Regions from separate parts of the Homo sapiens genome. Here all the other regions are reported to be linked to region 1. The links are microRNA targets in miRTarBase. Many come from high-throughput screens and were not tested one by one. Region 1 holds a microRNA gene; each other region holds the end of a gene's coding sequence.

The links. The annotated mature microRNA hsa-miR-151a-5p reads UCGAGGAGCUCACAGUCUAGU and lies in region 1 at 1,704-1,724, shown strand. An mRNA with a match to its seed (bases 2 to 7 or 8) in the 3' UTR can be bound and repressed. Matches are read on the target gene's strand: a 7mer-m8 pairs with bases 2 to 8, a 7mer-A1 pairs with bases 2 to 7 and ends in A, and an 8mer does both.
Region 2: miRTarBase lists ZNF512 as a target of hsa-miR-151a-5p. The part of its 3' UTR that is shown has no 7-base or 8-base seed match.
Region 3: the mRNA of SNX11 is a reported target of hsa-miR-151a-5p. The part of its 3' UTR that is shown has no 7-base or 8-base seed match.
Region 4: the mRNA of CBLB is a reported target of hsa-miR-151a-5p. Seed matches in the 3' UTR shown: 7mer-m8 at 4,696-4,702.

What each region holds. Positions count from the first base shown.
Region 1 is chr8:140,729,347-140,734,346 of GRCh38, reverse strand. MIR151A (microRNA 151a) reads left to right here and starts at 1,694; the gene lies at 1,694-1,783. All of the region lies in intron 25 of PTK2 (protein tyrosine kinase 2), which reads left to right.
Region 2 is chr2:27,620,498-27,625,584 of GRCh38, forward strand. ZNF512 (zinc finger protein 512) reads left to right here. Exons shown (of 14, transcript NM_032434.4): 14 at 656-2,720. The coding sequence ends at 964. Among named protein-coding and RNA genes, the nearest start is that of CCDC121, 6.0 kb to the right of the region's middle.
Region 3 is chr17:48,120,708-48,125,794 of GRCh38, forward strand. SNX11 (sorting nexin 11) reads left to right here. Exons shown (of 7, transcript NM_013323.3): 7 at 528-2,894. The coding sequence ends at 801. Among named protein-coding and RNA genes, the nearest start is that of SNX11, 15 kb to the left of the region's middle.
Region 4 is chr3:105,654,170-105,659,256 of GRCh38, forward strand. CBLB (Cbl proto-oncogene B) reads right to left here. Exons shown (of 19, transcript NM_170662.5): 19 at 1,292-5,060. The coding sequence ends at 4,801. Among named protein-coding and RNA genes, the nearest start is that of CBLB, 210 kb to the right of the region's middle.

The sequences.
Region 1 (5,000 bases):
TAAACAAGATACTGTAATATAACACATAGGCATGAGAAGCTTTATTATATAAACAATACCATGGTTCAGTGTGTGCTGTGTCACCTGTTTTCACACTTGGGGACTTCCTCCATTTTATGTGAGTTTTTATGGGTTTGTTTTTCATGCTGTATTTTAGTCTTTTTCCTAAAAATCATCAACTGCAGGGTCCAGGCCTTTCACCATCTAGCCCAGCCTTCTCACCACATGTTCAAGCTGTTCAACCTGCTAGACAGGATTCCTTTTAAGGAGAGTATTTCAAAGAAGAATTAAGACCTATAGGTAGAAGCACAAAGGATTCATCCAGTCTGAAAATGTTTGCTAAGCACCTTTGTTATTCTAAGCTAGGTTCTGTGGGTCCAACAGTGAACAAGACCCAATCCCTGCCCCCAGAGAGTTTAAAGTCTGGTGGAGGAGACCGAGGTATCACTGGTTATTACAATACAGTGAGCCCCACATTGGAAAGACCAGCCACGCTCTTGGTCTCCGTCCCCATAACTCTCACACACCGGCCTGGTTCTACTTTTCAAGGCCCCATAGAACAACCCTACTCTGCCTTTCACACGATAGGCCTTCAGGGTAATTCTAAACAGCTTCCTTACCTCCTCTTAGTTTCTTCAAGCCAAAAATCTTCAGTTCCTTAATTAATTCTCATATAACTTAACTGCCTATTCTCTCACCTTTACAGCTGGCTTTTGGACATGCTTTATTGCATGTTGTTTTGCTCCTATTTGTTCCTCCTTGATCTTTCCTCAGGATTTGACAGATTCTGTCCTTGGCATTGTTCCTCTCTGATACCAGTTCTATCACCCCACCTCCCTGGCATCTCTTTCTACCTCATTGACTTGCCATCTCTCCACCTTTACCATGAATATTAACCAAATTTCTGTTTTCAGCCTCTTATTTTCTCCCATTTTCTCTCATTACTCTTCCCAGGATGTCTGACCCATTCACATGGCTTTGCTGCTTACCTCTGTCTGTCTATAGTTCTGGTCCTGCCCTTTTCTCAAGTCCCAAACCTACATTTTAAATTGCTGGCTGGGCATCATGTTTATCCAGAAAGCAAGCTGTTACATTCTCTTCTATGCCAGCCCTTCCTCCTCACTTCCTCCAGGTTGGAATAGTGCCTTTATCTTCGGCACCATCTTGGAGTCATGCTTCACTCCTTGTGCCTGCCCCCCACCCTCCATCCCACGCTCTTTTCCCATCTGTCTGGCATGACCAGCTTAGTCAATCTTCCTGAAATGTCACTGGAAAAATAACTCCCCTGGTCAAAACAACTTTCAGTGGGGTTTTGTCACCTTTTATGTTTGGGTAAAGGCTTCCACAGTAACATTTAGGCCTCATTTCATTATGGCCTGAGATTGTCTTCTCATCCCTTTCACACACAGTAGCTAAACTAACCCTCCTGTCAGCCCAGAATGCCTCCTTCTTCATTTGGGGAGATCTTACCCATCTTTCTCGGCTTCTTTCACGCACTGGGTCTTCTGTGACTTCACAGCTGACTAGCCTTCACCCTCTGAGTCTCCAAAGCTCTTTGTTCTTCTTGTCAGGCTTACCCTATGCTGCTATAGATGGCTGCAACCCGTGTTCAATTCAGTTCGATAAACACTGTTGAGCACCTACAGTAGCTGAGCCTGGTGCTAGTCACTGGGGCAAAGATGACTAAAACACTTTTCCTGCCCTCGAGGAGCTCACAGTCTAGTATGTCTCATCCCCTACTAGACTGAAGCTCCTTGAGGACAGGGATGGTCATACTCACCTCGGTGTTGCCCAAACCTCCAGGCCAGTAGCCTAGCTAGCTAGATACAGGAAGAGTCACCCAGGCACTGAATTCAAGGCTTAGAACATATGAGTGATTCTTAATACTAAGGAATGCTCCACTGAGGTAAATTATCTCCAAAAAGTATCCAATACATATTTTTAGAACTACATATAATTACTTTAAATAGGTACCTGTAGTATAATTTATGGATATCTTCTTATATACTACTAGCACAGGTAGTTGAGCATTCATTCATTCTGCATTGTTCTGTTTTAGAAATGGTGTTTAACTTTGCGTTTTGAACATATACAATTAGGCTACCAAATAGGCCACCATTTTATATTATAAAATGTCACTATATAATATAATTGCTTACTTGGACATTTGCATATAACAGTGTATCACAATAACTAAATAGGTTATTAATTTTTTTCAAAATTTTTATTATTTCCAAGATTTTAACAAAGAAATAATAAGTTTGGATAGCCCTTTGGTCGTTAAAATTATGGTAGTTAAAAATGTTTCCCAAATCCCATTCTTCTTCTTGACCTCGAAAGAATTCTCCTTCCCTACCTTGAAAGAATATTTGCAAGTAGACTCAAATTACTGTGGGATTCCCCTCATCTTTAACTGGAGTGTATGCGTGTGTATTTTATTTTGTTGAGGCGGGGTCTCCTCTGTTGCCCAGGCTAGAGTGCGGTGGCACCATCTCTGCTGCCTGCAACCTCCACCTCCCATGCTCAAGTGATTCTCCCACCTTAGCCTCCTGAGTAGCTGGGACTACAGGCATGCACACCACACCACCACACCCAGCTAATTTTTTGTATTTTTGGTAGAGATGGGGTTTTGCCATGTTGCCCAGGCTGGTCTCAAACTCCTGAGCTCAAGCAATCCACCCACCTTGGCCTTTCAAAGTACTGAGATTACAGGCATGAGCCACCATGCCCAGCCTTGTATATTTGTTTTTGACTATATTAGTTGAGAAGTGATTTTTGGTATGGAACATGTTGGGCAAACTCATAGGAAAATCACCTTGGTCCTACTTTGATGAGGTGATGTCTGTGACTCAAGGAACCTGTCCTTCCTACATCCTGTTTACTTATTCATAGGTATGAATTCATTGAGAAGTAGAATGAGATTAACCTGCCAGTGGCCTATTATCAAGTATAAAAAATTCCTCAATAGGAATACTTTCAATTGATCAACAGTGAAATTTTCTTATAATGCGTACTCTAGCATTTTTGTGCTTTATGACTGTCAGGTTATAAGAGCGCACCAAATATTTTTTGAGTGAAAAATCATTTAGCCGGGCGCAGTGGCTCAAGCCTGTAATCCCAGCAGTTTGGGAGGCCGAGGCAGGTGGATCACCTGAGGTCAGGAGCTCGAGACAAACCTGGCCAACATGGTGAAACCCCGTCTCTACTAAAAATACAAAAATTAGCCCGGCGTGGTGGCAGGCACCTGTAATCCCAGGTATTCAAGAGGCTGAGGCAAGAGAGTCGCTTGAACCTGGGGAGGCAGAGGTTGCAGTGAGCCGGTATTGCGCCATTGCACTCCAGCCCGGGAGACAAGAGTGAGACTTTGTCTCAAAAAAAAAAGGGGGGGGGGGGTTTAATTTAATTCCTGGTTACTTCAGTTAATTCTTTGTTAGGTACTATGACAGGGAAACCATAATAAACAGCTTTATTATTTGCCTTTTTGCAGGTATGTTCAAAAATAATATGTCCCAACAGTACTCTTCTTGACTAAGGTGTTGGTACCACTATTTTAAAAAAGAACATCAGCTTTATCTCATATTAGAAAAATATTTTAGGTTAATGTTAAAATTCTTAAATATATTTTAGGCAAATTAGGGCAGTAAACACAATTATCACTTTAAAATTTTGTGTTATGATTTTTGTATATTTTAAAACTTTTTATTGATGTTTAATAAACACACCAAGAAGTGACAGCTTACTGGATTTCCACCAGTTGGATACAGTCTGTCACCAGCAACCAAAATGAAAATACTACCAGCACCCCAGAAATCTTCCACATGCCCCTTTCTAATCACTGTTCACCCTCCAAGGGTAACCTCTATCTTGACCATAGATTGGTTCTGCCTGTTTTTGAACATGATGTAAATGGTATCAGTCAGTACTTACTTTATATATATAATTTATTTTACTCAACAGTTTGTGGGATTAATCCATGTTATTCGTGTAGTTATACTCAATTCTCATTGTTATATAGTGTTCCATTTGTGAATATCCTATAGTTTATTCCACTGTTGGTGGAAATTTGTATACTTCTAATTTGGGGCTATCAAGAATATTGCTCTGTGAAGTAGAGAGGATATAGTAAGTGTTGTGTAAACAGATTTACCTGAGGCTTTATGTTCTAAAGAACACCAGTCTCAAGTATCACCTTGGAAAGCAGTCCATGATTTTGAACTGGTCTTCTATCATTGAGCTCTTTAGGAATATTTTTAGAACCAGTACCATGTGCATTGATAGCAAGTCTCCATCCTCTGCAGTTAGCTCTTCTAGTTATAACATTGAAATAACTAGTAGTTATAGAGCAATGTCTGTTGGCAGGCATTGTGCCATGAACTTTTATACACTATTTCATCTTAATCCTCACAGTCCTGGGGCATACTACGTATAGGTAGTATCTTCATCGTTAGTTTACGATGATGAGGAGACTGAAACTGTGTGGTTAGGCACCTGATAGAAGGACACAGAGCTGGAATTCAAGCTAGGTCCACCTGAGTCCAGAGCTTGAGCTATAAGCTGTCATGCTCTACTGACTGCCTTGATGTTTATTGGCTAGAAGTCATTAAGTGTGCCTGCCATCTTATGATTTGGACTGGTGAGCAGGTTGTTAATATTGGTTAGTTAAAAAGGAAAAAGAAAGGAAAAAAATACTATTACAGAGAATTCCTGCAGCTTGTTTTCTTACATTGTTTGAGTATCAACCAAAGTCCTTAAAAGGAATGGCAGCATCACTAGCAGATGCACAGAGGCCCTACCCACGGGCTTTGAGGGGGACATGGCTTCCTTTTGTACTTTCAAAGTATTTTCTTACTGGTTTTACTTGTTTCATTGGCATATTTTGAGTGTGTTGTATTTTGCTTCTGTGGAACACAATAATTTCACATACAGTGGGGAGCCGATTTGGAAGTTTTGAACAAGTCACCCAGAGTTGACTTCAAGCAAATCAGAGCCAAGCCATGACA
Region 2 (5,087 bases), not on the chromosome of region 1:
TGTTTGTTTTTGAGGTACAGGGACCACTGCAGTGGAGTCTTGCAGTGGGGCAGAGAGATTGGGCTCAACTCCCTATTCTGGCTTTTCCTATGAATTGGTAGATTTAGAAGATTGAACAGATCACTTGATAAGATTGAAGTTCTTTCTTTTTTGGCAAAAATACTTCATAATTGGATTTCATGTCCCCTACCCCTTAATTTTTTAAAGTGAGCCTCGAAAATGTTAAGTAATTCGCCCATGGTCACGTATCTAGAAACAGAGCTGGGATTTGCACCCAGGGGGTCTGGCTGCAAAATTTATGCTCTTAGTTACGATGCCGTCATGGAATAAAAATCTCCTATGGCTCAGTGTGTTACATCTCATGATGAGATTTATACTCAGGAGATATAAGAGTGGGATGATGCTAAGTAAACAGACTTTGTAGATCATTTATTAAAGTCCCTAGAATTACGCCTTACAAAATATGTGCTTGTAATAGCTGCTCTGTGTTGGATTTCTCCATCTTAAAATATAGAATCCTGAGGTATGGTTCCATATCTGTTTCCTTCTTACTGTGTTCTGCCCTAATCATGCCTTTTTTCCATTCTTCCTCCACCTTTCTTTATGTTCTTCACTATATTTTCGACTGGATGACATTTCTATTTTGCCTCTCTAGGACTGGTTCGTTGTAAACCCAACAACAACCAAAAGCTTTGAAAAGCTGATGAAGATAAAGCAGCGGCAGCAAGAAGAAGAAAAGCGGAGGCAGCAGCACAGGAGCAGAAGGTCTCTAAGAAGGCGGCAGCAGCCTGGCATTGAGCTTCCCGAGACAGAGCTGAGTCTTAGAGTAGGGAAGGATCAGAGGAGGAATAATGAGGAACTGGTAGTGTCAGCCTCCTGTAAGGAACCAGAGCAGGAGCCAGTGCCAGCACAGTTCCAGAAAGTAAAGCCCCCAAAGACTAATCATAAACGAGGAAGGAAATAGGCAGTCAGTGTAAAAGTGCTCCTAGGAAAGCAGATGTGATGCTGTTGTCACGGGGACCTGTGCTGGGAGGACTGAGTGAAGATTCTTTCAGCTGTTTGTGTAAGGCTGTGACTTTCTCAGCTCCTTCCTCCTGTGTAAATTTCACTGTCTTCCCTTCTTACATTTTGATTCCCCCCTCCCCTTTTAGTAGGTTTTCCTGCTATTCCTCGTCAAGTCCTCTTGTTTTTTTATCTTGCCCAAAGAGCTCCCTCTCAAGGCCAACTATAGGCTCCTCTTGCCCTGTACAAAACTAAGAAACCTCTTTGGTTGTCCTTTCCTTCCTGGGGTATAGAATGTTCTTGGAAGCTCCATTGATTTAGTAGCTGCTCCATCATCTAGCTTGTGAAACCATTCCAAACTAATTTTTTAAAACCATAACTGATTTGTCATTTTGTATTTGTGATATAACAAGTCTAGAAGTTAGAACTGTTGTCATTCACATAATAAGATTACTCTGTCTCCTTGGGAAAAAAACTTTATGGAGGCTGTTTGTCCTCTCAATATGGTTTTAAGATTGAAAGTAAGAAAACGGATTTAGGATGAAAACTCTAGAACTACCCTATGCTGTTTATACTGGGAAATGCTTTGTACCAAGTAGCAGTGACTAGACCCACAGACATGAAAAGCAACCTTAGGAGTAAAGTGACCCAAACATTAAAATGACAGGAAAGAGAAAGTAGAAGCAGCAATAAATACTGCCCCAACTTTCCTGGAGCCCGAGGCCTCATCCATAGCTATGATCACTTGCCCTCTGAAGCTTATTTTTGCTTCTTTGGTTTTAAGAATTGAGAAATATCACATTGCCCCTGATGTTTTGACAGTCTCCTAGTGCTCCTGGTAGTGCCACTAAGGGAAAACCAAGGTGCGCATTCCTTCTCCCTGGACTTTACCTTACTTGTTAGTCTACGCCCCACTGTTTCCACCCATCCCCTTAGCCAACCTCTGTCTTTTTGAATTTTCTGAGAATATTGTCCTATCCTCTTTTATATATGGAGTTCTCTCCTCTTTATATCCTGAGACTTTGACACCAGATGTAGATATTTATCTGGAGCTGGAAAGAAAAATTCTTTTTCTGTACCTCATGCCTATCTGGTAATGTTTAATGGGTTATTTCTCTTTGAGGGTGGCTTTCTCTGGAACATTGGTTAGAGCAGCTTTGTTGTCGTGTTTCTGGATTCTCTTCCCCATTTTGCGTAAATATTGGTCTTATATATTCTTGCCTATTTTGTGGCATATGCCACATAAAAAATGAACCTGATATAGACAAGTACTACCTTTTCAAATTCTGAAAGGCTATTACCACTTTAACTCTTTGTGCTCCTCCAAATAGCTTTAAAATGTGGGCTTTTGTGAAGACCACTTTCAAACAAGGGAGCACTGAAACCTGAATTGGATACTGCCAGAATAGGTAGTTTTGAAACAAGTTAAGGACATGGTATATGCACTCTGCATTTTCATTGGCAGTGTGCCCTTAAAGCCCTTTCAGTAGATGAGGGTTGTCAGGGAGGAGAAATGAAGAAGCTATGTTAATTTCTGGTGAGTAAGACCTGGGGAATGTTTGGCAATGACAAAAGAAATAAATGACTCTCAGAAAGATGTTTCCAGTGTTCTTTGACGCCGACCTGCTGCATGACTCCTTGACACTGTATGGGGGTAAGAAGATGGCTAGAGATGGGGGTGAGTTTGAAATAAATTCCACATGCAGTTGTCTCAGTAATTCTTTGGTTCATGAATTATGCTGGTTAAAATGAGTAGTTTGAGATTAAAGTGAATTAGTATAGGAAACTTGCCCAGTTTCATCCAGGGACCTCTTGCAGGCATTCCTTTCGTTTTTCCTGACCAAGACCAGGGATCAGCAGGACTCAGTATAGACTATTCTAATCACAGTATTGAGTTTTAAAGTTTTTTTAAAAAAAATTCATTAGACTAACAAACTAAGTTTGACAGTATTATGAACTTTCATACATGGTTTGGAATGCAAATTGGTACAATCACTTCAAAAGTGATTTGGCAGTATCTAGCAGAGTTGAAGATATGTACCCGAAGACTTAGCAGTTTCTCTCCTGGGTATACACAGAGTAACTCCTTTTGTCTAGGCGTACCAAGAGACACAAAAAAGAATGATTATTGCAGTACAGTTTACAGTAGAGAAATACTGAAAACAAGTATCAGAGATCTACTTTCACCTTTGCAAATTATGGGATTATAGAACAAATGGCTAGACTGTATATTTCCTAGTTATCCCCCTTCCCTCCACTCTCTCTAGTGAAGGAGAAGCCAGCTAACTCCTCTCCCATGGAATGTGAGTGGAGTGATGAATGCCACTTGCAGGTTAGAACTTTTGAGTGGGTGTACCTCCAAGCTTTCTTTACCCTTCTTCTGGCTAAATGCAGATGATGATGGGGCCCTAGGAGATGGAAGAACACAAAATGGAAGATATCTTGACCCCCTGAATCACCTGTTGAAGGAGAGCCACTTGCCAACCAGGAACATGTATCTGAGACTATTAAGTGAGCAAGAAATAAATGTCTGTTATTTGAGACATTATACATTCTTGGGTCTCTTTGTTAGCCTACTCTAATACACAATAATTATCCATTATCAGAATGGATAAATTGTGATATAGTCATACAGTAGAATACTATACAAGCTATAAAATTGAGTAGGGTTTCTCGTATCATCATGAATATGTCTCAATGTCTGGGGCCAGGCACAGTGGCTCACACCTGTAATCCTAACGTTTTGGGAGGCTGAGGCTGGAGGATCGCTTGAGCTCAGGAGTTCTAGACCAACCTGGGCAATGTGATGAAATCTCATCTCTACAAAAAAATTAAAAAAATTAGCTGGGCATTGTGGTGTGCACCTATAGTCCCAGCTAGTTGGGAGGCCGAGATGGGAGGACTTCTTGGGTCCAGGAGGTCAAGATGCTGCTATGAGCTGTGATCACACTACTGCACTCCAGCCTGCGTGACACAGTGAGACCGTCTAAAAAAATACAAAGAATATTCTGCACATCTCCTTAAAAGAGAACATTTTAGAAATTTACTCTTGCTTCATCTCTCTCTTCTTATAGCAAATCCATTAGCAAGTCCTGCCTACCACCAACTACATTTTGAATCTGTTCACTCTACTTCTGCCATTCCAATCTAAGCCATCATTACCTCTTGCCTAGACTACAGTATCTTCGTAATTGGTTTCCTTCCACTTTTTTCTGGCTTGGATACACTCCACATAACAGTTGTAGTTTTTAAAATTAGGTAAATCAGACCTCATTCACCTGCTAAAGGCCCTCGGTGCCTAAACTCCTGCTAGCCTTAATAGCCTCATCTTCCTTTCCTCCACTCATGTTCTGTGACCATTCCTCAACTATACTTTACATACACACCTTTCTGTTCCTTGAACCTACCAAGCTTATTGCCATCTTAAGGCATTTGCATTCACTGTTGCCTCTGCCTAGAATAGTTTCTTCCCCAGTTTTTGCATTGTAGGCTTCATTTTAGCAATCATAGGTCTTAAATTTCACCTCAGAGGTCTTTTCCATCTAAACTCACTTTCTGTAACATAACCCTGTGTAATTTTCTAAATAGCAAAGCAGACAAAATGCAGATTGAAATCTTAGTTGGCCAACTTGCTGCTTACTTAGAGGTATGGATTTCAAGGTATGAAATCAGTTATCATTCAACTTTTAATGTCTTCAAGCCCTCACTCTGGAAGGGACAGCCACAAGCAGTATACCATATCCATTACCTGGGATGATAAGTAAAAATGAACTGAGATCAGGTGGAAGTTACCCACTCTTGAATTAGATAATTGGGACACCAGTGGCAGGAGGGGAATTAACAGAACTAATATGCTTCCTACTTTCCAACTTTTTATCAGCCTTAGAAATACATTGTCTTAGGGTTTTTACGTCCACAGAGACTAAGCCTTCAAGTTTGTCTTGGATACCATGCTTTCCTTGTTCAGTGTTTCTGTATTTTCAGCTCACAAATTGAGATTTAGGTTAAAGTACCTGTATGCTAAAATCCTAATTTCTGCATTAAAACTAGTTTTTATTATTTGCACATGTGAATAAGACATTTAA
Region 3 (5,087 bases), not on the chromosome of region 1:
CACCGTGTTAGCCAGGATGGCCTCCATCTCCTGACCTCGTGATCTGCCCACCTCGGTCTCCCAAAGTGCTGGGATTACAGGCGTGAGCCACCACGCCCGGCCTCTTTTTTATTTTTTTAAATTGAGATAGGGTTTCACCAGGTTACCCAGGTTGGTCTCCACCTCCCAGACTCAAATAATTCACCATGCCCAGCCATTTTTTTTTTTTTTAATCGGGCAGCCTCCTGAGTCAGAACAGGCTCAGAGAGACTTCCCTTTCTGTTCATTTTTGTTTATATGTTCATACTTTTTTTTCTGAGACAGAGTCTCACTCTGTTGCCCAGGCTGAAGTGCAGTGGTGTAATCATAACTCACTGCAGCCTTGACCTCCAAGGCTCAAGCAATCTTCTGGCCTCAGCTTCCTGAGTAGTTGGGATTACAGGCACATGCCAACATCCCTGGCTAATTTATTTTTTTGTAGAGACGGAGTCTCCCTATGTTACCCAAGCTGTTCATACCTTTCTTTTCCCTTTCCCACTCTTTTCCAGTTGCTGCTTTCTTCCAAGATCGGGTAGGAGGAGCTCTCCCTCACCGCCTCCCAGTGAAGAAAAGGACCATTTAGAAGTGTGGGCTCCAGTTGTTGACTCTGAGGTTCCTTCCTTGGAAAGTCCCACTCTCCCACCCCTCTCCTCACCATTATGCTGTGATTTTGGAAGACCCAAAGAGGGAACCTCCACTCTTCAGTCTGTGAGGAGGGCTGTGGGAGGAGATCATGCTGTGCCTTTGGACCCTGGTCAGTTAGAAACAGTTTTGGAAAAGTGAGCTCTGGGTTCTGCTCTGAGATGGTCAGAGAAGATGCGGGCCAGGAGACTTACTCAGGTGGGACTGGGCACAGGGCAGGTATGTGGGAGGCTGGGCTGCTTAGTGTCTTCTAGTCACCTCTGCTTGGGCTGATTGACAGAGGTCAGTCATTACAGCCCCTTATGCCTCTTCCATGGGAACAAATACTGTGCAGATGTTTGTAAGTTAAACATAAGACACAGGGGCTGTTGCTTTTGAACAGAACCCTATATTACTCTCCTGGGATCTGAGTTTCTGCAGGTCATTTGTATGTAGGACCAGGAGTATCTCCTCAGGTGACCAGTTTTGGGGACCCGTATGTGGCAAATTCTAAGCTGCCATATTGAACATCATCCCACTGGGAGTGGTTATGTTGTATCCCCATCTTGGCTGGCTTCAGTTTTTGCTGTAGCCCTAGAGCACTTTGTTTGTGGGAGGCTGGCCTCTTGCCTACCTCCTTGCATGGACAGGGGGATGAATATTTACTTTCCCACCTCCTTGCTTTTTCTTTCACTGATACCACTGAATGGAACTGGTGCTGTGACTCCTGCTGCTGGGGATTTATGTCCCGAGACCTTAGCCTGGCTGAGTGGAGCCTGAGACCTGCACAACAGCTCATGGTCATGCATGAGAGAGAAGTGGCTGGCCACAGCCAGAGGGAACAGTAACAGCCCAGGGGCCTTTATTTTGGGAAAGGCTGTCCCGGGCTGTTACTGTCTCTTCTGGTTATAAAGCAGACATGTGGCCATCTTTTCCGCAGGGTTAGAGTGGGCTCCTTTCTTTTTGGAATCCTTTTCTTCTCCTTTGGTAGCAGCTCCCTGCCTCCAGGGCTTCCGCCACCAGCGTCTCTGCTGTGTTGCGCAGTGCAGTGGGGTGCAAGGGCTTTGTTTCTGCCTGCCTGAAAGAGAGGGCTCTGGGGATGGAGATGAGAAACAACACGCTCTCCTTCAGACAATGAGGCATTCTGTCCTCCTGCTGCCATTCTTCATCTCCACTGAGAGCCAGAGCTGGTAGGAGCCGAGTGCCACAGGCATTCTGCATTGCTCTACTCTTAGGTTTGTGTGTGTGATCCTTCCCCTCCCTGTCGCCCACTCCTCCCTCCTCTGGCTATCCTACCCTGTCTGTGGGCTCTTTTACTACCAGCCTATGCTGTGGGACTGTCATGGCATTTAGTTCAGAGTGGAGGGGCTTTGGCCTGAAATAAAATGCAAGTATTTAAGATTGTTGTTGCAATTTGTGTCTAACAAGCTGTAGCAGAGAAGGAGGGAGTGAGCGCTGGCAGTATTTCCTTTCATAAATCATGAATTTATCAGTGTGGAAATAATGCTTCAGAACTGTGCTCTGTAGCCCTCCTGCATTGTGTGTGCAGCTCAAGTTCACCACTGGAGGAAGGATTGTCTTCCAAAGAGCTGGGATCCAACTCTTCTCACAGTTCTGGGCGTGAACCTTGTTAGGTATAATTTACCTGATGCTGCTTCCATCCTCGCAGTCTGTCTGAGGTGCCAGGTGCTGAAAGAGAAATAAAGTTTGTCAACAGGCAGATGCAAAGCCCTGGCTGGTATTCATCCCTCTTTCCTGCCCGCCTCCCCTGGGTCTCTCCTTTATATGATGCAGCAGAGCAAGGCGAGGATAGAAAACCTACAGAGGCAAATCCAAAATGTCAGAAGAAGTTCATTTAAAAGGGGAAAAAAACTCCATGTGCAACCCTCACAAAAACCCGACAGATGCTAAGCTAATGGCATCCGCTCTGCCGATTGGTGGGGATGGCTCATGAATATTAATGAGCCCAATGCTCCAAATGGTGCAGCTGTGAACCCAGCTGTGCCTGAAGCTCTCTGATCTCGAAACTTCCAGACAGGAGCTGGAGGTGGTCTGTGTCAATTCCCTACTCAGCCAAAAAAACAGCAAGCTGGGTTGGCCTTCTTCTGTTTGCTCCTTTTCTTCCTGGAGTTGGTGCTCAGCAGCTAGTTCTGCCAGCCGGCTAGGCTGCTGGGACAGCAGGAGCCATTCAAAGACATGGATGTGATTTTTCTGACTCCCAGCTTTTTTAATGATCCATTAGCAGCATGCATACAACAGCACCTCAGTTAATCTAAGGCCAGGCACCATCTCTTTTCAGTCTCTCTCTTAACTGAGTATAGGCCTTGGAAGGAGAAGTCCTAGGAAGGAAAGCACTTTTCTAATAATACAAGCCTAGGGTCATCCGAAAAATAGCGCACATGAGTTTTCCTCTCCATCCAGATAGTGCCATAGGCCCCTCTTCTGTTTTGCTCTGTCCCTGCGTGTGCCCAGGTCTAGCCACTGTGGCCAGATGACCTCTATGAAAGATGGAGGATTAGCTGTGGGGAGTGGCTCATTGAGCTGTTTTGTAGGATAAAAATATTTTGTTTAGAATTTAGTTTTGAGTCAAGTTCTGTCCTGATGTAGTCACCTTTCTTCTGTCAGATACCTCCATGGCCCACATCTAGTCATCCATTACCCAGGATGACTGATTCCAAGCTTGTGGAGGTTGTTTGGTGGGAGGAAATGTGTTTGTGTGTGAGGGGGGTGTTTTCTTACATTAAAATACTAAGTTTTATAAACATAATTTTATTGGCCCTTCTCAGTGCCTAGCAAGGAAGGTAGGTTAGGTATATGCTCCTTTTTTCGTTGAGGAAACTGAGCTCAATGTTTTTGTGTGTGTTTTTTTATTTGTTTGTTTGTTTGTTTTGAGATGGGCAGCCTTTGCTGCCCAGGCTGGAGTGCAGTGGTACAATCTCGGCTCACTGCAACCTCCACCTCCCGGGGTCAAGCAGTTCTCCTGCCTCAGCCTCTAGAGTAGCTGGGATTACAGGGGCCTGCTACCACACCCAGCTAATTTTTGTATTTTTATTTTTATTTTATTTATTATGATTATTTTTTGACATGGACTCTTGCTCTGTTGCCAGGCTGGAGTGCAGTGGCGCCATCTTGGCTCACTGCAACCTACACCTCCCGGGTTCAAGTGATTCTCCTGCCTCAGCCTCCCGAGTAGCTAGGACTACAGGCACGTGCCACCACGTCCAGCTAATTTTTGTATTTTTAGTAGAGACGGGGTTTCACCATGTTAGCCAGGATGGTCTTGATCTCTTGACCTCATGTTCCACCTGCCTCAGTCTCCCAAAGTGCTGGGATTATAGGCGTGAGCCACCACGTTTGGCAATTTTTGTATTTTTAGTAGAGACGGGGTTTCACCATGTTGGCCAGGCTGGTCTTGAACTCCTGACCTCAAGTGATCCGCCTGCCTCAGCCTCCCAAAGTGCTCGGATTACAGGCGTGAGCCACTGTGCCCAGCCAAGTGTGGTTTTTTAAAAAGCATGTTTTTAGATGATGGTGGAATATGTTCACATGAGAGATACTTTCCAAGCTCTGTGAGACAAGTCCCCTACCACTCCAAAAAAGAAAAAGTCTACCACTACATTCAAGGAAAAAAACAACAACCCTGCAGGGCTTTTCAGAATTGTTCTCAGAAATCAGAGCTCTTTCACAGTTCTTAGTTTTCTCATGCTAAGGCCTTACATCCATACTACCGAGTCCAAGGTACCTCCTATCCTCTCTGTTAGCTTTGCTTGGGAGGTGATAATGACTTTTTTTTTTTTTTTTTTTTGAGATGGAGTTTTGCTCTGTTGCCCAGGGTAGAGTGCAGTAGCATGATCTCGGCTCTCTGCAAACTTCACCTCCCGGGTTCAAGTGATTCTCCTGCCTCAGCCTCCTGAGTATCTGGGACTACAGGTGTCCACCACCACGCCTGGCTAATTTTTGTATTTTTATTAGAGATGGGATTTCACCATGTTGGCCAGGCTGGTCTCAAACTCCTGACCTCGGGTGATCTGCCCTCCTTGGCCTCCCAAAGTGCTGAGATTACAGGTGTTAGCCACTGAGTCTGGCCTTATTAGAGATACGACTTCTTAGGGGGGAAAAACACTTCTATTTTAGCCATGACTGGATTTGGAGTTGGAAAGCTGGAGACCTCAAATCTCAAGATATAATAAACAGACAACTTATGCTCAAAATGTTAACAAGAACTACACTTCCTAGGAGACAGAGTCCTCCTGACTGAATAAGCAGAGTGAATAATTTTACTTTTCTTTTGTTCAGGGGAGATCTGGTCTATTTTCACAAGCAAAGGAGAAGGAAAAAAAGCCAAGGGGTACTTTCATGGTTGCCAAAGGGTCACAGATAATAAACAGAGGTGACAAAGCTAGGGTGTGAGAATTAGGAGACTACTGGGAAGTCTCTAAGGTTTTTTT
Region 4 (5,087 bases), not on the chromosome of region 1:
TGTATCCTTGTTCTCCCAATGGTGGAGATGCTTATTACCTGATTCACTGTTGACTCCTCTCTAGTTATGTTCTGCTCTGCTCTAGTAACCGCAGATGGCAGATCAGTAAGTCCACTGTGTGGACTCTAACAGAATAAAATGCCAGTTCCCTAATATCTATAATTGGTGTTCTCTGGGAGCTATCATTAGTTGAATTGGGAGAGGTGGACCAAACCCAGAACATTCTCACTCATCACTCACTTTTCCCAGGTAACCCTCCAGCCCATCCTCTTCTGCTCATGATGACTCTTAGGACACAGGAATGGAAGTTCTGCCACCAGCCTCTTAATGAGTCCCACAGAGGTTTCCCGGGGGGAGGGGGGGCTTTTAGGAGAGAAGAACAAGTCTTCTCAAAGCACTGAAGTGATGATGAGCGGCATCTCACCTTTGCTTAAATAACAATATTTTATCATGTGTGCTCTTCCTATTTGAAAAGCTTTAACTCTGAATTTCTTTCTTAATACCAACAACAAATCCTTGCTCCTTTTAGGCTTACAAAAGACTACTTAGTCTTATGGGTTGTCAAACTTTCTATTAGAAATATAATTCCCAACTTCCCTTCCACAGTCCTAAAAGAGGCAGGGTTGTCGAAAGCATTAAATGCTTTGACACTAAGCTCCTTACACATAATAAAGGCTCAATAATTAGTTCTTAAGCACTTATCATACAGACGTAATTCTAGTACAATGTGGTATGTTGTACACACATTTTTGTACTGGAATTACTTGCTTATGTGTATCTTCCATTTCATGGTATATGCTTCCAGGAAGTAATTGTTATTACTATGCACGGAACTTTGCATGTAACAATTAGTTTCACAATATTCTGCCATGATTCTTGATATAAAAGCAATTATTAACATTGTTATCTCTGTTGTTCTCTCCCCACTATATACTGATCAGTGAAAAAATGATTTAAGAAATGAGGAATTTAAAGACCAGATGGTACTGTTGATCAGGAATTATCAATTATATATTATAGTACATCATCCTGAAGGCTTTCAGCATTTCCCAGATATGATATTTCTTACTTGGAACCTTGATACACCTTTGACATTCAGATCTATGACATAGGGGCAATTTTATCTATTAGGCTACCTTAAAATTGTGATTTTGGTACTTAATAACTAAATTACCTAGGATGGGTACACCTTGCACCACTTTGTTCAATTAGACATGAAAAAGAAAAATTACATCATAGAAATGCTCTAAAATTTTTGTGTTCATTTGAAAAATAAAGTACCAACTCTGCATTTAGTTAACGTTCATTTTATAAAATACTTTAAAAGAACAGATAAAGTACTTGAGGTTACATAATAACCAGAATTGAAAAGGAATGAATAAAATATAAATTAATTGAACATATGACTATTTTGCCACATCACACAAGTTTTAAAAAGGCATTTTAAAAAACAATAAAATAGTAATTGGGGAAAAAACCCTTCACTCTATTGGTGTCTTTGTCTGGAAAACTTTCCCAGAATCACTAAAATTCCAGGTCAACAGGTAGTACCTGAATTATTCAAGTATACTGTAATTTGCTTCCAAATCTGTTAGCTGAAGAGAGAAACTAAAATTTTATCCAAGTTAATTCAGTGCAAATCAAAGCTTCAAGTTGAAAATCTGAGAGAAAAAATAACGTTCGAACTGTAGGAAATGCTTCTGGAACTGAAAAATTAAAAAATCACATTATGAAGAAATCTTTGCAAGTGTTCTTGGTATATGAAATGCTGAGTTAAGAAATGGGACCCTTTTAAGTTGCAGTGAGGGTTCTATTATGAAGACTATTTGCAATGTGGGCAAAAGGGAAACAGAGAGGGAAGAGCTGAAGGTTGTATTTGTGGAAGGAAATTCAAGTTAAGCAAAAACTGCTTTTATTCAATTCTAGAAAAATTTGGTGAGATATATCATACATTAGGGGATAAAACAGATTATGGAGATAAATTTACTGGAATATAATTGAGGATAAGTCCTTCTATCTCCAGAACATGTTTGGGTTGGGTGAGAAGGGTTGATATTGGCCACATATCAGTAAGTTAATTTGTCTTAATTTTATGTATTATATGAAATGCTGACTTAAAAAAAAATTGTTACCAAATCTTGAGAAATGGAAGGAATGTCTAACTTTTTGGATCACAGTGAAACAAAGTCTGGATCACTTCCAGACATCAACGAGCAGTCGCTTTTACAATAAAAAAAAATTTTTTTAGGTTTAATTTCATAGGTGATAGATAGCAATGGGTCTTTCTTGACAGTGTTTAATAGAAAGTTTTCCTCTTTTCATTCCATTACGTATGAATTTTTGATTCATTCTTTTTAAATGACAATACTAATGGTTGCTATTGAGTACAAGATGCAGAGATTTTGCTGGAGGCTGGTAAATTTTCTCTGCAAAACAGATATCCCCCCACCCCCCACCCCCAAATTTCAGGTCCAGGTTTGCTATATCATCACTAGTCCTTTTTTAATTCTCACTGGAAATTTTCAAATATTGTTTATAAACTGAATGAGAATGTGCTATGTTCTCTAACATTCTTATTTTACATCATTCTCTAATATATTAGGAATGTTGCAACAATGTTATCACAATGAAGTGGCAACTTTTGGCCTTTAGACTGTACCTATCATCAGCAATCATAAAAAGGCCAAAATAAACAGTGCTATTCCAAGGTGACATCTGAAACTGTTAAAACAAGTGAAAAATCATAATGACAAAACAGGGGTTCATAAAGCAAAAGAAAATTTGCCAATGCAATTTTAAAAGTGTAAGAAACTTCACTCATGTACCTACTCATGGGAAGAACATCTAAGGCAAATGAAAAATTCCCCTCCAGGGACATAACCAGCTCAGAACCATCTGAAAAAATTCATACAAAAGCAGAAATTACCCAAGGCCTGTGAGTCCTCATCTCATACCATGAAAGCCAGACTGTCAAAAAAAGGGCACATGTCACTTTGCAAAGGAATGTATTAACTCCTCTCCCAGGGTCAACTTAGTCTACGTGTCTTTTGTATAACATTAATTTCCACCAGATCTACTAGATGTTCAGTCATGTCCTTTCAGGTCCTGAAGGCAGGCTCACTCTCTGATGCATCTTTTTATATCATGGTGGGTGTGAAGTGAAAAGAGGAGACACAGAAATATGCACAAACCCACAATTAGTCCATATTTAGAAAACTTTCTGTGGGTTCAAGCATTTACACAGAGATGATTTTATCTCATTTCTCCATTAATTTCCCATTTGAAATGAAAACCAGCTAATTCTAAATTCTAAAGCCCTGGGGGAAACCTTCCAGGCTTTGTCTATCAGACAGACTTTGTCATAAAAAACACAGAAAAACAAAAATAAAACATTACGCTGGAATCAGCTTTTGAGAGTTTGTGCTTTAAAAACACAGTGCCTAACAGCACCAAGCATATCATAGATGCTCAATAAATATTTGTAGATTTATTAAGAGTAATAACATGGTGTTTAAAGAACCAACCACCATTTTGTAAAATAGGCAAAACTACATTAATTTCTTTCACCTGATTTGATAAAGCAGTGTGGAGCAATGAATGAGAGAATCTGCAAATTAAATATGAACTCTAATTTGATTGCAGAGAGAAAATTACTGAGAACTTTGCAAAAAACATTGCCACAGTAGCCTTGACACTCAACAGTGCAACGAAGAGTTAATGTTTCCACTGCAATATGAACTGGTTCCCACAGCTCTTAGGAGATAGAGTGTAATCACTTAAATGGGAAATGAACTCTAATTCCACTTGAGAAAAGGTATGTTATGTTCATAATTTTATCTGAAAATTATTAATATATTTCAGGGAGATGGTCCTCTCATTCAGCATCCCTCAAAGTAATGCAGGCATAAGTATCAGGGGACCTTGTTATATAACTTCAGTACAGCATTGTCTTATACAAGTGTTCTCTCTTCCACATCTGTAGTAGCTGCTTTCTAATATTGTAGATTTTTACAGTTGTGACACCCCTGGGATGACAGACATGAGAATATGGAGGATTAAAGGTTACAAAACTTAAACAAAAAAGGGAAGCTCCTCTATGTTATGTGAAAACCCCTTACAAAAGGCAGTTTATTGACAAATAAATGCTTTATACATTCAGGTTTTTCCCATCTCTCAATAGTGATGGTTTCCAAAGAAGAAACTCAGTAGTGAAGAATACATACTTTTTTTTTTTTGCATTAGTTTGATCAGTTGAAAATCAGAACCTTCAAAGCATCTTGTGAATGAGAGAAATGGAACTGGACCTGGGCAAGGCATGGGGATGGTAGAGATCCATATGAATAAATGATTTAGCTGTTGATGTGGACAGCAAGAGAGTTGGTGGGAAATGTTACAGCAGACCTGACCACGCTACAAAGGGTCTGTGAAGAACACAGTACAGGTATCAAAACACCAAAACAAAACTAAACTAAAAACAAGAACAAACTGCAACTTTGCCAAACTGTAAACAAGGTAAAGCATTTCACAGGTTCAAAGTTCAAGGGAAGTAAACGTCTTTAAATTATTTTTGTCAGTTCAACCCTGATTTAAAAATATGGCTAGCAAAAACAAGGAAGCCACAGCTGTCGACATCCTGAGCAAGCATCGGTCTCCTTTGAGAAGCTGCACTCCCAAGCCTCTTCTCAAGCTGCTACACGAGGAGGAGACACTTCTCTCTTGAATTCCATCTCAGTTCTCTTTATTTCCACACTCTTGGAATACATCGATTGCTTTCCATTTTGGTGTCTACAGTTCTGGCTGCTATAGATTTAGACGTGGGGATACTGGAGGAGGGAAGGCAAATTCTCGGAGGATGCTCCGGGCAACTTCGACATTATTCTGGGCTATCTCTAAGGCTCTCTTCACCTCTTCAAAGGCATAACCCTCTCCCATGAGTTTTGCAATTTTTGCATCGACATTTTCCAATGCCGCCTCAGGCCCATGGGGTTTTCTGTGGTGAATTTCTGGTGCAGTCCTGCGCGGTCGTGGTTTAGGGGGTCTGGCTGGTGCCTGTGAACCATCTGTGTAGATTTTTAAAGAGAGATACT